2 separate regions of the Homo sapiens genome follow, and region 2 is linked to region 1. Evidence: fine-mapped expression QTL. A gene starts in region 1. The other region holds a variant in brackets. All regions are shown on one strand. Distances are from middle to middle.

The links. PIP is the estimated chance that this variant, and not a neighbour inherited with it, causes the effect.
Region 2: its variant is the best candidate, but not a certain one, in a credible set for the expression of TMEM69 in whole blood (INTERVAL, PIP 0.74).

Annotation. Positions count from the first base shown.
Region 1 is chr1:45,683,136-45,691,784 of GRCh38, forward strand. TMEM69 (transmembrane protein 69) reads left to right here and starts at 5,046. Exons shown (of 3, transcript NM_016486.4): 1 at 5,046-5,140; 2 at 7,839-7,975. The coding sequence starts at 7,934. GPBP1L1 (GC-rich promoter binding protein 1 like 1) reads right to left here and starts at 3,398. Exons shown (of 13, transcript NM_021639.5): 1 at 3,277-3,398; 2 at 2,441-2,485. RefSeq lists enhancers at 3,014-3,612, 3,239-3,388, 3,449-3,498, 3,569-3,688, 3,709-4,038 and 1 more.
Region 2 is chr1:45,640,193-45,648,841 of GRCh38, forward strand. GPBP1L1 (GC-rich promoter binding protein 1 like 1) reads right to left here. Exons shown (of 13, transcript NM_021639.5): 7 at 2,235-2,307; 8 at 18-211. It also overlaps the pseudogene RPS15AP10. Among named protein-coding and RNA genes, the nearest start is that of CCDC17, 20 kb to the left of the region's middle. The variant A/G (reference allele first, on the strand shown) is at 4,708.

The DNA of each region.
Region 1 (8,649 bases):
TAAAGGCAGTGACCATAACAGTCAAGTTAAACACAACAACTTAGATTGCCTAAATTTGAATATAGGCCTTTTTTTTTTTTTTTTTTTTTTTTTTTTGAGAGGGAGTCTCGCTCTGTCCCCAGGTTGGAGCGCAGATCTCGGCTCACTGGAAGCTCTGCCTTCCGGATTCATGCCATTCTCCAGCCTCAGCCTCCCGAGTAGCTGGCACTACAGGCGCCTACCACCACGCCCAGCTAATTTTTTGTATTTTTAGTAGAGACGGGGTTTCACAGTGTTAGCCAAGATGGTCTCCATCTCCTGACCTCGTGATCCGCCCGCCTCGGCCTCCCAAAGTGCTGGGATTACAGGCGTGAGCCACCGCGCCCGGCCTGAATATAGACTGTTACCTACCAGCTGGATGAATCTCTGGACTCCTTTTCCTCAACTACAAAATAGGGTATAAAACAGTATCTACTTAGACCTGGCGCTGTGGCTCACGCCTGTAATCCCAACACTTTGGGAGGCCAAAGTGAGCAGATTGCTTGAGTCCCTGAGTTCGAGACCATTGCTTGAGTCCCTGAGTTCGAGACCAGCTTGGCAATAGGATGAACCCTCCCCCTCCTCTCTAATAAAATACAAAAAAAAAAAAAAAAAAAAATTAGCTGGGTGCGGTGGCACGCACCTGTCGTCCCAGCTACTAGGGAGGTTGAGGTGGGAGGACTGCTTAAGCCTGAGAGGTGGAGGCTGCAGTGAGCTGAAATCATGCCACCGCACTCCAATCTGGGTGACAGAGTGAGACCCCGTATCAAAAACAAAACAAAACAAATAAACCAGTATACTTATAAAAGTAAACAACAAGCCGGGCGGGGGCGGTGGCTCATGACTATAATCCCAGCACTTTGGGAGGCCAAGGCAGGCGGATCACCTGAGGTCAGGAGTTCAAGACCAGCCTGGCCAACATGGTGAAACCCATCTCTACTAAAAATACAAAAAATTAGCCAGGCGTAGTGGTGAGCCCCTGTAATACCAGCTACTCGGGAGGCTGAGACAGGTGAATCGCTTGAACCCAGGAGGCGGAGGTTGCAGTGAACAGAAATCAAGCCACCGCACTCCAGCCTGGGCAACAAGAGCGAAACTCCGTCTCAAAAAAAAAAAAAAAAAAAGAAAAAGAAAAGAAAAGAAGGAAAAAAAAGTAAGTAACAAATACAAAGCACTTTAAACAGCAGTCAGTCCCTGGCACATCAGAGTTATAGCCATAAAATAAAGATATGCAATCTTCTGAAGTATGATTCACGATTGTGTCTTATCTTTAACTCAAAATTAAAAATGAATTACAAGCAGAAATGTGCACCAGATTTCTTATCATTCTAAATTTAAATGGTTGAATGTGTCCTCCTCAGCTAAGCATTTTAACAGCCACTGATGAGCAATCTAGTAAATTGAATTCGCTCAAAATAAAGGTTTCCCCAAGAGTTCCCCCCACACCACAAATCAAGAGCTCTGATAAAGACACCATCCAGAATCAACTGAATGTTTATATTAACATGTACAAACCACTGAGTACCCCCCCAAAAAATCAATATCTCACTCCAGTTTAGTAGTTAACAGTGACAAAACACAAAGCAACTAGCTTGTAATTTCTATTAAAAACTTTAAATATTTTTCCTGTAAAACCACCAAAATAATTTAACAACAACAACAAAAAATCCTAGGGGTATTAACAAAAACCAACTTTTGTATTTGAAAAAACGTCAAAAGGTACATTGAAAACTGACTCCCTAGGAAAGATGAGTTTATTTTACTATTAATTTCAAAGTTCTCATTCACAATTAGCATTTCACTCTTTTATCTTTTAAATAGATACAGGCTTCAGCACCTTTCCAAATATTGAAATTTATTGGTTTTGGTTTCCAATCTATGACTTTTTGTTTAAACTTCTGGATCTATCGATTAAAAAAAAAAAGCAAACAAAAGACAGTCTCTTGTTCAAAAGGGCACGACAATCAGGTACTCCATACCTAAAGTATGTTTTCACTTGTTAAAATGTCTTACACTATTCTAGTAAATATCTCAAACTTAATAGCACCCTAATTTCCTTTCAAATATTGGATAAAAAAGACCTTAGAAAAGATCAGCAGTCTACTAAATTACAAATATAAGTCTAATGAGGAGTGACTACCAATCACTTTACTTTTGGATAAGATTTACACAAGAACACGACTTACTACTAAACTAAAACATGAACCACTATTATTAACTGTATTTTTCTGGTAAGCAATAAATGTCAATGTTAAAAATATTTCAACAAATATGACAAGCCAACTTCAGAGCACGAAGTTGGCAGATAAAATTGACACCACAGCACAATTTCAAAACTATAAGCAACTATTAAACACACACACCACCGCACCGCACCCATTCTTATGTAAACTTTTGGAATAGTCAACTTTGTGAGCCTCACCTTTGTTTTCACCCAGCATAAGGAGAGTTAAAGGTGAGACACCAACTGCAAAAAACCAAAATATCAAAAGATTCAGTTAATGTCCCCACAGGGGAAAGGACTAAAATCTTTAAACGTTAATGTATTTAAGTAATCGAAGGGCAGGGCACTTCCCCAAGCTACAGCCATTTTGGATTCAGACTGTCTTTCGAATTTCACGGGTTGGGGAGAACTAGATTTAAAACAACAGAAAAAAAATAACACTTAAAACATTTCAGGATCGACCAGCTTTCCCTGCCCCTCCAAGGAAAGGAGGTTGGTAGATATCGGATAGACTCAATCTAAGCGAAAACACCTCGCTACCACAGAGAACCGGAAAGCTGGGGGTTAAAACTTTTTTCCCCTCAGATATCCAACATTTGACTTACACTTTTTCCTCCTTAGGTTTTCCTTTGAAGGAAAACAAAAGCCCTTAGCTCTCATTTCAAGAAGGAAAGAAAAAAACCCGTAAGCCAAGTCACTCAACGAGCACCAAGCCGGATCGCCTGGAGAGGAGCCAAAGAGCCGCAGGTGAGCGTTCCGACCCGACGACCGAAGTTAAAGTAGGAGCGCTTTCGCGGAGCCCCGGCGACGCTCGCGTGCAAAGCTCCATGCACGGGGGAGGCGGGGGTGCCGCATCCGAACCACTTGACCCGTGGGCTCCGCTCGCCCCTCTCGGGTCGGACCTATACCCAACCACCTGTGTGAGAGCTTCTTTCAACTAGTTTTAACAGCCCGTTGGTTAGGCACCGGGCGGAGCCCCGCGCCAGAACGACTCCAGGATCTCCTACTGCCCCGTTTCCCAAACTCCCACTCACCGGGCAGCGGCGGAGCTATGGCCAGGGACTAGACGCTGCGTCTGAGGACGCGTCCCCAGCTTGTCGACCCGGCAGAGGCGGCTAGTCCACAACCATAACAAAGCTCTTCCCAAAATGGCTGCCCGGCCCACAAGGTCCAGGAGGGGCAGAGCGGGTGGAGGAGGAGGAGCGACCAGCAGCACGGCCCTCCCATCCCCCGTCCGACCCCGCCTTACACACGCCCACCTGAAGAAGCGCATGCGCAAGGGACTGCTCCGGCGACCCTCCCGGACGCCAGTTCCCTACGCTGCCAACGTTCGGCCTCCAGAACGGCGGTTATGCCCTGCCCCGCCCCCGGCTCCCTTCTTCGCCGCTTGAGGCGGCGCATGGTCACCTCTGCCCCCTACAGAATTGAATCCTCTGCCTTTCCTCGTGCCGCCTGAGGCACGGACAAGCCTAGTTTAGTACGCCCCTTCTAACCCCCTTGCCCACTTCCAGGGCCTGGGCGCGTATGAATGAGTGGGTGGGTATGCATGTGTGTATCCCTTTTTTCTTCACCCTCCCACAGCCCGCCCCTTGGCCAGTGCGCGTCCCGAAACTACCTCTACAAGGACTTGCAAACCGGTTTCGGAGGAACGTGTGTTTTCCGGCCCTTTCCCACCTTCCGCTCCTTACTTCTCGTGTGCGCGTCGTTGAGACTCCAGTCCCCAGCGGGCCACACGGCCTGGCCCCGGAGGCTGCGCGGCTGCGTCGGCCGCGCTACCCGCTGGGAGTAGTAGTTCCCCTGGAGCGCAGGCGTCACTCCCCCGCCCAAGCGAAGGGCGGGATTCCGGCGAGAGCCTGCGCTTGCGACAGTGCCGTTTCTCCTACCTGAAGTCTCATTGGGTATCGCACTACTGGAAGGGGCGGCGCTGCCATGACAGAGAAGGCAATAAAACTGAAGGCCTAGCTCGACTAAAAGCGCTTACTATTAAGGAAGACTTCGCTGTGGCTCCATCCGGCACGGAAAGCTAAACCGTGTAATGGCTGGCAACCAGGAAGCTAGACTACCTAGAATCCGGAGGATTGGAGGGACTGGCCGGCGTGGGCCCCTGAGATCTCCTACTACATGTCTTCAGTTTTATCCATAGACACGGAAGGGCACTAAAATTGCCTGGTGCCATTTCCTGTGAAACAAGTCTAGATAAGAGAAGGGACTTGCCCAAGGTCACATAGCCGAGAAATAAAGCCGAGGGCAGTAGGAGAAATGATCTGACTTTCCGAACCACCCCCAAGCCTAGGGCCCTTATCACCACACCTTTCATGGAAGTGAAAATCCTGCTCTTGTGCTCTTTAACCCTTAATGAAGTTTATAGGTCCCAGCAAAGAAAATGGATGTAAGAACTGGGCTTTTTTCCCCCTCTAAATGATAGTAAAGGGCCCTAATGCAGTGAGATGTGTCCCCATAGGCCTTATAAACCCTGTTTTGCAAAGTAAAACATAAGTCCCACAGATGGCAAGCAATTCAGGTCACACTGGGCCTAAAATCCCGTCTCTTACCTTCCTTCACCACCATCATTCTGAGATTGTTTCAGTACTTGCACTCTACTTACCCGAACTCTGTGGGCAGATTCTGCTGCCTGGGAGCCCTGGAATAGAACTTCAAGGACCGTTCAACATCTGGATTCAACTAGAAATTAAGAATGGCCCCCAAACAGAAAGCCGGGCCTAGGAACCAATTAGCGCAGGTCAAGTCCCTACCCGGACTCATTTTTTTTCAGCCCTCAGGAAGTAGGGGCCTCTCTGAATCCACTTGCCGGAAGTGCCTTTCCAGTGGACCTGGGCTGTTGTTGCGGTTGTTTTCCTTCTCTCCGTGCAACGCTGGCAAGTCTCAAAGTCGCCACAGGTGCAGGTTGGGATGGGAGGCACCAAGGGTTGGTAGTAAATTTGCGACGTTGGGATGGGAGGGCACCAAGGGTTGGTAGTAAATTGGAGACGCGGGCACTCTCGGGCAGGGTTTCCCGAAGACACTGGCGTCTAAACCCCGCCTTCCTTTCTCAGAGGTCAGTTTGAAGCTGGCAGTTTGCAGTCTTCCCACCAGGGCAATGGGAATATTGAGCTTTTTCATTTATATTAGGAGGATTAAGCTTTGAGTCTCAGTCCTTAATCCCGCATCACCTGCCGTCCCTGGACTTTTTAGGTTATCACTTTTTAATACCCACTAGTTGGAAAGCACGTGCCACAGAGGAAAGGGAGTTTCCAAAGATGGGGGGATGGTTGAGATTTTAAATGGAGTGGTCTGGAAAGTCCTTAAGAAGAAAGTGATTTTGAACAAAAGTGATGGGTACGCTCTGCGGGCATTTTGGTCTGGGGCTCAGGTGGGTGGGTGTGGGTGTGATCTAAATTCTACTCGGAGGCCCAGGATTACTTACCTCCCTACTTGCTTCCTTAAGTATAGTATGAAGACATTAACTGGTATACAGGATTTCTTGACCCAGCCCTAAGATCTGTGATCAATAAATTAGTTCAATCGATTTTTTTTTTTTTTTTTTGAGACGGAGCTTCGCACTGTCTCGTGGGCTGGAGTGCAATGGCGCGATCTCGGCTCACTGCAACCTCCGCCTCCCAGGTTCAAGCAATTCTCCTGCCTCAGCCTCCCGAGTAGCTGGGATTACAGGCGCCTGCCACCACGCCCAGCTAATTTTTTGTATTTTTAGTAGAGACGGGGGGGAGGTTCACTACGTTGGCCAGGCTGGTCTCGAACTCCTGACCTCGTGATCCACCCACCTCGGCCTCCCAAACTGCTGGGCTTACAGGAGCGAGTCACTGCGCCCTGCCCAATCGATTTTTTAAAATTAAGCAGCAACTGTAGGTTTTTTTAGACATCCCATTCTCTTGGTTAAGAATGAAATTGTCAGATCTAGATCCATATTATCATTCACCTGTTTTTACTGGCTGCTTACATTAGAGTTTTTAATCAGTCCCTCCTGTGTAAAGTGCTTTGTGTCAGGGACGGTTCTCAGCTATTTACATGTAGTAACTTATTAAGTGTTATATCAGGCTAAGTGGCACACACCTGCAATCCCAGCACTTTGGGAGGCCGAGGCAGGTGGATTGCTTGAGCTCAGGAGTTCAAGACCAGCCTGAGCAATATGGCAAAACCCCTTCTATACAAAAAATACAAAAATTGGGGCCAGGCACGGTGCCTAATGCCTGTAATCCCAGCACTTTGGGAGGCCAAAGCAGGCGGATCACGAGGTCAGGAGATCGAGACCATCCTAACATGGTGAAACTCCGTCTCTACTAAAAATACAAAAAATGAGCTGGGCGTGGTGGCATATGCCTGTAGTCCCAGCTACTCAGGAGGCTGAGGCAGGAGAATGGCATGAACCTGGGAGGCGAAGCTTGCAGTGAGCTGAGATGGCACCACTGCACTCCACCCTGGGCGACAGAGCAAGACTCCGTCTCAAAAAAAAATTGGCTGGGCATGGTGGCGTGGCCTGTAGTCCCAGCTCCTTAGAGGGCTGAGGTGGTAAGATCCCTCGATCCCGGGAGGTCAAGGCTGCAGACAGCGGAGAGCACGCCACTGCAGTCCAGATTGGGTGACAGAGCGAGACCCTGTATCCAAAAAAAAAAATGTTACATCAACCCTATGAATTAGTATCCATATTTCAAAGGTGAATGAACTGCACCATAACAAGATTAAATAATTTGTTCAAAGACACACAGCTAATAAGTAGTGGAGCCAGGATTCCAACCAAGTTTGACACCAAAGTCTGCACTCCAACAGGCTATTCTCTCTCAGTACTAAGTTAATGAGGTTATTTTGAGCATTAAATGAGTTAATGCTCACCGGGCGCGGTGGCTCATGCCTGTAATCCCAACACTTTGGGAGGCCTAGGCAGTTGGATCACCTGAGGTCAGGAGTTCAGGACCAGCCTGGCCAACATGGCGAAACCCCATCTCTCCTGAAAATACAAAAATTGGCCAGACATGGTGGCAGGAGCTTGTAATCCCAGCTACTTGGGAGGCTGAGGCACAAGAATTGCTTGAACCCGGTAGGCAGATGATGCAGTGAGCCAAGATCGCGCCACTGCACTCCAGCCTGGGCGACACAGCAAGACTCTTGTCTCAAAACAAACAAACAAATTAAAAAAACCTAAATTATATTGGTTGGTACTATCGTTATTTTGAGTTGTGAACTCTTAAGCCCCAAAATAGGAGGAAAAAAGGAAACAGAAGCTATGACCTTCCAGTTTTGTTTTGGTTTTTTTTTTAATTTCACAAAAACACCACTTAGAAGACCCTTCATTTTAAAGATGAGAAAACCAGTACTCAAGCAATTTGCCCAGTGTCACACAGCTAGGAAATGGTGGAAGTATCTGTAAAATCTCTATGTGCATTACTCTTTCTATTACACTAGACAGCCAAAGCTAAAAGAACAGTTCAGATACTAAAAGGATCTATTTTGTTACTGTGTTACCGACAGTTTGAAAACATTAATGATTCTTTTCAAAGGAAAGTGTTATATTCATGAATTACTACTATTTAAAAATTAATGTATAAAATGAGGAAAATTAAGTGACACCTTGTGTTATACACAGAAACATGCCCCTGATTCAGTGCCTCTGCTTAGCTGTAACATGTTAATCAGAACTACCTGGCATCTTCCTGAACAAGACTTTCAATAGGGGCCAGTATGCTTCGCTTCATCCAGAAGTTTTCTCAAGCATCTTCAAAGGTTGGTTTGTTCAGCAGATATTTGAGCACTATTTGCCAAATATTGCTTGGGCTAGGTCAGTAGCAGTGAAAAAGACAAAAATCCTTACCCTTGTATATTCAGGTGATGGAGGGAAGAGTTAAGTAAAATACAAGTAAGTAAAATGTTTATTATATCAGGCTGGGTGCAGTGGCTCACGCCTGTAGTCCCAGCAATTTGGCAGGCCGAGGTGGGTGGGATCACTTGAGCTCAAGGAGTTCAAGACCAGTCTGGGCACATGGCAAAACCCCATCTCTACAAAAAATTAGCTGGGCATGGGGTCACACGCCTATAGCCCCAGCTACCTGGGAGGCTGAGAGAGGAGGATCGCTTGAGCCCAGGAGGTTGAGGCTGCAGTGAGCTGAGATCATGCCACTGCACTGCAGCCTGGGTGACACAGCAAGACGATGTTTAAAAAAAAAAAAAATTGGCTAGGTGCCGTGGCTTACGGCTGAAATCCCAGCACTTTGGGAGTTGAGGCAGGTGGATCACTTGAGGTCAGGAGTTCAGTACCTGCCTGGCCAACATGGTAAAACCCTTGTCTCCACGGAAAAATACAAAAATTAGCTCAGCATGGTGGTAGGCGCCCGTAGTCCCAGCTACCTGGGGGGCTGAGGCAGAAGAATCACTTGAACCCAGGAAGCAAAGGTTGCAGT
Region 2 (8,649 bases), 43 kb before region 1:
CTGATTCTAAATCATACCTTGGAAGGAGGTGGTACAGGCTTAGGAACCAGGTTCTTATAGACACTTGGAACCACGGATGACAATTTGTTCCCATTTGCATGGTGAGATCCTGGTGAGGTGAATGCAGCAGAGAAGGCAGCAGCAGGATCCTCTTTGGAAACTTTTTTGATAACTAGCATCTTGGAGGGTTGCTTGGCACTAGGCGGGTTTTCTGTGAAGTACAAGAGTGGAGAGACAACAGAATGTCAAACCTGTTGTGTAACATGAAGCATAGTTTATACAAAGGCCTTAGTCAACAAAACAGCTGACAGTTGAGACAGAGGGATTAAACATTCCCTGGTATGCACTTAATAGATACTCTCAAAAGTGAGACTACTCAGGAACTGTACAAAAAAATGCAGCATATGAGGAACTGGATACTAAATTTATAAATCAGCCAGGAAGTCCAAAGATGTTAGCAGTCCTTCAGGGGCACAATATGTCTGATGGACAGTGTGATCAGTTAAGCATGAACCCAACAAGAATAAATCCAAGCGCCAGGCACTGTGGCTCATGCCTGTAATCTCAGCACTTGGAGGTGCTGAGGTGGGCAGATCACTTGAGTCCCAAGAGTTCGAGACCAGCCTGGGCTGGCAAACCCTGTGGCAAATCCCCATCTTTACAAAAAATACAAACATTAGCCAGGCATGGTGGTGCACACCTGTGGTCCCAGCTACTTAGGAGGCTGAGGCGGGAGAATCACTTGAGCCCAGGTCGAGGCTGCAGCGAGCCATGACTGTGCCACTGCACTCCAGCATGGATGACAAAGTCAGACCCTAACTCAAAAAAACAAAAACAAAACAAAAAAAAACACCTAAAAGTAGCAGCTCCTGTCAGCATGAGAATAGAGAGATGAGGTAATCAGGGATTGGAGTCTGCCATGAAACCCTCTGATGAGGCAAACTGGAGCAAAGGTATACACCATTAGCAAAGAGGAGAAGGTACATCGATCAATCTTAATCCTACAATACTGGATTCTAAACCCATCATTTAGATATGTTAAAGACTTCCCATGTTCTTGGCTATCAACATGTCTAATGAAGAAACCAGGAGAGTCCAATTTGTAAATGCCAAAGATCCCAATGCCACAGATGAGGTTTGGTTTGAAATACAGATTCCTATCGCACCACTGCACTCTAGCCTGGGCGACAGAGTGAGATTCTGTCTCAAAAAACAAAACAAAACAAAACAAAAAACCACAAACATATATATACACACACATACACATAAACACACACACACACACACACACACACGAATATTTAAACATACATATATATGAATGTTTAAGAATATATTGTTATGGGCTGGGTATGGTGGCTCACGCCTGTAATCTCAGCACTTTGAGAGGCCGAGGCAGGCGGATGATGAGGTCAAGAGATCGAGACCATCGTGGCCAACATGGTGAAACCCCATCTCTACTAAATAACAAAAATTAGCCGGGCGTGGTGGCATAGGCCTGTATTCCCAGCTACTTAGGAGGCTGAGGCAGGAGAAAAGCTTGAATCCGGGAGGCTGAGGTTGCAGTGAGCTGAGATCTCGCCACCGCACTCCAGCCTGGCAACAGAGTGAGACTCCATCTCAAAAAAAAAAAAAAAAAAAAGTAAGTGAAGTAGCAATGTTAATTAAGTTACTTTTCATGAACTTTTTCTACTTAAAATCTGCTTCCATGTTGGCTACGGTGGCTCATGCCTGTAATCCCAGCACTTTGGGAGGCCAAGATGGGTGGATCACTTGAGGCCAAGAATTCAAGACAAGCCTGATCAACATGGTAAAACCCTGTCTGGACTAAAAATACAAACATTAGCCAGGCATGGTGTAGTCCCAGCTAGGGAGGTGGAGGCTGCAGTGAGCTGAGATTGCGCCACTGCACTACAGCCTGGGCAACAGAATGAGACTGTCTCAAACAAACAGACTAACAAACACCACCAAAACAACTGCTTCCAAATTCACGGTTCTATAAGTTCTCAGTTGTCTGTATTTTGACTCTACTACCATGGTAACATTTCAGTGGTGTTTGGGGGTTGGGCGGTGGGGTAGGGGGCAGAATAACCCGCTACAGTCAGATGTTAGTTACCATGGGCAAATGCATGAGATGAGAAACAAGAGATAAAAAGAGATAAGGAATCTTTGCTCCCCTCCCTGCTAAGAAAAAATTTTAAAGTTGTGCCTTTAAAATGGCAAAATCTACCTACCCCATACTCCAGAAGGTGTCCCAATAGGTCTGCATGGCTGATGCTGTTTGCCAGCTTCTGGATTCAAGGAAGGCTAGGAAAAAAGGGATATGAATGGTTGATACAGAAAGCTGATCATTTTGGCACTTTTCACAAAGTAGCCATCACCATGGAACCTATCAAATAATTACATATTTTACATATTAGCAACACTTACTAATTTGACACTGTATTCAGAAACGTAACAAACAGAAAATATCAAAACACAAAATCAATAGGTATTATGTTAATATTAGGTTCTCCTGAGTTTCATTTCCTTTGATATAAGGGATTTCATTTATTTTAAATAAACAGACTAAATGTGCGAATTCCCACTTTCCTATAGGATATGTATGCCAAATAAGGAGGCACTGAAAGTTAGATGAACAAGAATGTGGATCATTTTCCTCAGATTAAAGGAGGACAATGTGGTCAGTGAAATGTATAGTATTCACTGCATTTCTAAGATGGGTGTAGGGCAGGGGCAGACCATATGCCAAGGACTGTGCTAGAAATACAATAAAGAGCCCCTGTCTTCACACGGGTCACAGTTTTGCTATAAAAACTTCTAGACAAGTTAAGTACAATAAAAGGTTACAAGGACGATGAAAAAAATTCATATTAGGGAAGAAGGAGTACTCAGTAAGAAACATCAATTCTACTTGAAAGAGAAGTGCTATCAGAAAAGGCTTTACTAACAGGTGATTTAAGAATCCTTAAAGATGAATTCCAAAGCTGGAAAAACGGTAATTCCAGGAACAGAAAGCATTAAAAAGAACAGAATATTCAGGTCTGCAAATAGTTCAGCATGAGTAGTGCTAGGGAAGGAGGGGACCCTTCTGTGGGGAAAGAGGTATCTGGCAAAGCAGGCAAGAGCCAGCTTGTGGAGGATTTCTTAGGGGAGATTAAGTTTTATTCTACAGGTAATGAGGATCCATCTTTCATGCAGTTAACATTATCTAATTATCAACTTACAACCGTCACTCTAGTAGCAGCTTAAAGGATGGATCTGAGGTATTTAAACATCAACTAAGAGACCATTAGGAGATCAATTCCATAGTCCGGGAGGGTAATAAAGGTAACAGAAGTAGAGAACGAGATAAGGGAAAGGGCAGGGAAGAGTTAAGAGCAATAGACTAGACTTAATAACTAATCGTATGACACTGCTGTCCTAGCCCAAACTTTACGATCTGGTAACAGGGTAGGAGAATGGCTTTTTTTTTTTTTTTTTTTTTTTTTTTTTGTGACAGAGTGTCACTCTGTTGCCCAGGTTGGAGTACAGTGGCACAATCCTGGCTCATTGCAACCTCCACTTTCCAGGTTCAAGCAATTCTCCTGTCTCAGCTTCCTGAGTAACTGGGATTACAGGTGCGCACCACCACACCCAGCTAATTTTTGTATTTTTAGTACAGACAGGGTTTCACCATGCTGGCCAGGCTGGTCTCGAACTGACCTCAAGTGATCCACTCACCTTGGCCTCCCAAAGTGCTGAGATTACAGGCATGAGCCACTGTGCCCAGCAGGAAAATGGCTTTTCAGCACAATTGCCTGTGAACATTATACAAACAACAAAAAGACACCCAGGCTCCACTACAGAGCTTCAGAATCAGAATCTCCAGGGGCAGGGCCTCTAGCAGGTATGTATTTTCCAAGCAATCAAGGTGAGAACCACTACAATAGGAGAACAAGCACAAATGCAAATGAAACTACCAACTCTCTATATAAGTGGACAAATCAGTGACAGATTTTCAAGGACAGGTAAATACATTCCTCTAGATGGAGTGGTAGAGGCAGAAGGAGTGCCCAGCCATAAAAGCTGTGGTTGTTTCCTTGTTTCATTTTAATAGGCATGTTGTACCCAGGGTTCTCAGAGACAATGCTCCTATTTATACAGTATCTTTGATCTCTTTCTACTGTTTTAAAAAATACAGTTTTAAAACTTGTAAAATATAAACAGGAAAAATATAAAACAAATGAATAAGTTAATGGGTAAAAGTTCTTTTAAACACTACATGGTTTAAGCAACATAACATTACCAGACAAACCAGAAAGACATTACAAATCTCATTAGAAAAAAACCCCAAAACTACTCATACTTATGGTGATCACTGCATTTTTTTTTTTTACTAACCCATTGTGTCTCCCTTGACACTATAGTTTTGTCTCCAAAAACAATCTCAGCTTTTAATCTACTAGTTTTTAGAAAATCTTAAGCCTCTTTCTATAAATTGGTAGTTGGTTCTAGAGGTTACAGAATCCTTAGTGGTTTTGTATTCTTCCATTAGGAGACACACACAAATAACATGTGGTTGTGCTTCTTTTAGTGATGCTGGCAGACACTGGTGCTCATAGCCTAAAACTGTCAGCTCAATACAAGATGCAAAAACAATGATCTAATTTTACAATTCTTTATAAAGTAGTATACTTCCATAAATAGGAACTTCCCCTATTTGGC[A/G]ATTCAACAGTACAGTTCATATAGAAAAAATATGATACATGCTTGTTCCTAAGGTGAGGTAGGTATCATTGTGAATTCACAGATTTAAATCCAATTTGATGTGATTCAACCCTCGTCGTTATTATTATTAATTGATGCATAAAACTGTCCCATGTTTGGCCTATGGAACCCTCTTCAATTTGGCTTCTAAATCCTTTTGCTACAACCCTAAGTAGTTCTTTACTTCTTTGTTATCTAGTTTGAAAAAATATTCCAAGCTCTTCTTTTAAGTATGCTGTCTGGATAAACTATTTCAAGATCACAATCCAGGCAGTAGAGCCACTCATTGCTATGGGGTTGTTCACTGTTTTTATGTCTTTTCAGTGGACAGAACCGCCTAGAAGTATGTATTTTTCACTCCAAAGCTAAAACACCTCATAACTTATTACTGATATTCCCAATTCAAACTGAGTACCCTTGTGGATTTTACGGAACATCTATTTTACGTTTTTATTTCCTCCTACAAGAATCCTGATTCTCAAGCATACAAAGTATAGAATATCATATTTAATTGCTTTATTCCATATTATGCACAAGTTTCAGAATAGCAATGTCAGTATTTCACCAGTGACCAAAATGTTTTGTTTTTTTTGGACATGTTCTCCCCATCTTCCCACTTTAAAAAAGTTATACTATGTCCAGATTGTGAGATCATATAACTATCACATGCTAACTCTCTTTTAACCCTCATTTCTTCTTAGCTCTACAATTAACCATACATTTAGTATTTACCACCATTCCTTTTGTAATCTTTCTGGTTAGTTTGTCAGAAGCTTGTTCTTCAGTAGTTCTCAGGAAAAGTCTTGGGAACGATATTCCGAAGTTTTTTGTTTTTTTTTTTTTTGAGGCATTTTATTTGTAAATATGTATTGCATCCCTAGAAACAAAATCCAAGGATTTTCCCTCCTGTGTGTTTTCGTCTTGCTTCTTCATGGTCCATGATACCAGCTAAGGCTGTCAATATGACGAAGTCAAATGGTTGGGATAGAAGCAGATTGTTCTGCCGTTTTTCTAGATCTTTGAGTTGCAAATCAAAGCTGGGGCTCTACACTTGTTTAGCCTGCCTGTGAGGTTCACAATTTTCCCAGCTCTGTTATCATCAATGATTTCAAATTTGCCAATGTAACGATGCTTCATCATCACAGCTAGAAGTTGGACAATGACTTTGGAGCATGGCCTAGTAAGAACCGGCGTTTCCCTCTCTTTTCGGCATTGGTGATACTCTTGAGAGCAACAGGTAGGATGTTCACACACACCATTGTGGCAGCGCGAAACAATGCCGGAAAGAGCAATATTCCAAGTACTTACACATTGATGTTTGTCTGTGATCTTTATAACTGAACATTAGCTTGACAAAGCACAAAATCTTTGGCTCACATTTTCTTTATTGTAATTGTTACTCCATTTACTTGTTATAAAGCTTTGCTGTCACAGTCTATCTGGTTTTCTTTCTCTTAACAACTCAGTCTTTATGCCTGAATGGCCAAAGGATATCTTTCTTTTTTTGTTCAAGTCTAGTATTTTGTAAGAGTATGTCTTAGTCATCCTGGCTATCCTTTCAATTTGTAGATTCAAATCTAAATGTATTTCAGAAAAATGTTCCTGAATTATACTTTTCAGTATTTTTTTTTTTTTTGAGACGGAGTCTCACTCTGTCCCCAGGCTGGAGTGCAGTGGCGCGATCTCAGCTCACTGCAAGCTCCACCTCCCGGGTTCACGCCATTCTCCTGCCTCACAGCCTCCCGAGTAGCTAGGACTACAGGCGCCCGCCACCATGCCTGGCTAATTTTTTGTATTTTTAGTAGAGACAGGGTTTCAACATGTTAGTCAGGATGGTCTCGATCTCCTGACCTCGTGATCTGCCCCCCTCGGCCTCCCAAACTGCTGGGATTACAGGTGTGAGCCACCGTACCCGGCCACTTGTCAGTATTTAAGCTATTCCTTTATTTTGGTTTTCTTTCTGGGGGCGGGGTGGGAAGATCCTATTATATATCTATATTAGATCTTTTCTGCCAAACTTTTTTTTCCCAGTTTTAATTTTTTACCTATGTATTTCTCCTTCATTTAAAAAATTTTCCTTCGCTGTCTAATTCTTGAAAAATATTATTTATTCTCTTTATTCTTCAGTATTTTTCTGAAATTTTTTATTATTACTTCTTTTCAAGAGTTCTAGCCCCTTATTTTGAGTTTTCCCAGATGATTTTTTTTTTTAAACCAACTTCTTAGGATTTTTTTTTTTTTTTTTCTGAGACCAAGTTTCATACTCTTGTTGCCCAGGCCGGAGTGCAATGGTGCGATCTTGGCTCACTGCAACCTCTGCCTCCCGGGTTTACGTTCTTTAATGTCCTGGTTATCTTCTCCCTACCGCTTTTATCTGAACCTTTCCTTTCGTCTCTACTAACTTGTCTCTCTGCAGCTCAATCTGGATTATATTTCCAACAGTTTGTCCTCAGTGACGGGCTTTGTTCTGGAAGGGTATAGTGGCCAGCTAGCATGAACAACGATAGAACCCTGTGCTGGTTACCGCTTCTTAGTCACAAAGTCATCCCTTCTGCCTGTTGAGCAAAAATGTGCCTGGACACTTTAAAACTTTTCCTTTGACAGCTGGCATGTTAACTTCTGCCAGCGGAGAACAATGGAGAGATTTTTACTTCCTGTTCCTGTGTGTTTTTCAGCAGGCTCCCACAGCACCCAGTTCCTCAAAGCCAGGTTCTGACATATAAGTGAGCTCAGAGACCAGCAGCTTCCCTCAGCACCTCATCTGAGTAGTTTTGTAGCAGAGTGACACCTCTCATGAAAAGCCTTTCAGCACGCTTCCCCAGAGAAGCACATCAGCAATTACTCTGCCATTCAGTGAGCCACAACTGAGCCCTTTCTAACCAGGTATGAATCTCAGCCCTGGGGTGGTGGTAGGGAAATGGGGGACTCATTCTTGGACACACTGTCTTAGCCCTAAGGGTAGTGGCTGCTCCTTGTATGTATGCATATATGTCTGTGTGTATGTTTTTTTCTTTTTTTTTGAGACAGGGTCTCACTCTGTTACCCAGGGTGGAATGAAGTGGTGCCATCTGGGCTCACTGCAGCTACGACCTGCCAGACTCAAGCAATCCTCCCACCTCAGCCCCCTGAGTAGCTGGGACTACCAGGTACCCACCACGTCCAGCTAATTTTTAAATTTTTTGTAGAGACAAAAGTTTCACCACGTTGCCCAGGCTGGTCTCAAACTCCTGGACTCAAGCAATCGCCCTGCCTCGACCTCCCAAAGTGCTGCAATCACAGGCGTGAGCCACTGAACTGTGACTACGTGCTATTTCTATTTTCTTTAAAGATCTTTTTACTTTGTACTAGTCAATCCTTCATTACTCCAATCTTGCTATAGTTAAATTCCTTATATTAACTTTCTCTATTCAAACTACTGTGTGGTTTGAACTCTTGACTGGTCCAGTCAGATCCTTCATACCTTATCCCAGAGCCCCTGTATTTACTTGTTATTCCATTACGGAAAACTACTCCCGATTAACTGCTGCTCTTCTCAAATATGCCCTACGAGCTTTCCAGAAAAACGGTTGGCTCTGTTAGCATTCTTTATGCTGTCAGGTGCTCTGCTGCTTCCCTTCAGTTCCCCCTGCACAAATGCTAGTATTAACCAAGCCTCTTATATAGATTTTGGTGGTTTGTCCCTATCCCTTTACGGGTATGTGGGGAAATATCATTTTGCTTTGACGTAGATGGCATCTGTAGATTTTGTTGGTTCCTCAACTCTACTTGCTTTGTCTTATTTTTAACTTTACTTTAAAATAATTTCAGGGCTGAGCACAGTGGCTCACGCCTGTAATCCCAGCACTTTGGGAGGCTGAGGCAGGCGGATCACTTGAGGTCAGGAGTTTGAGACCAGCCTGACCA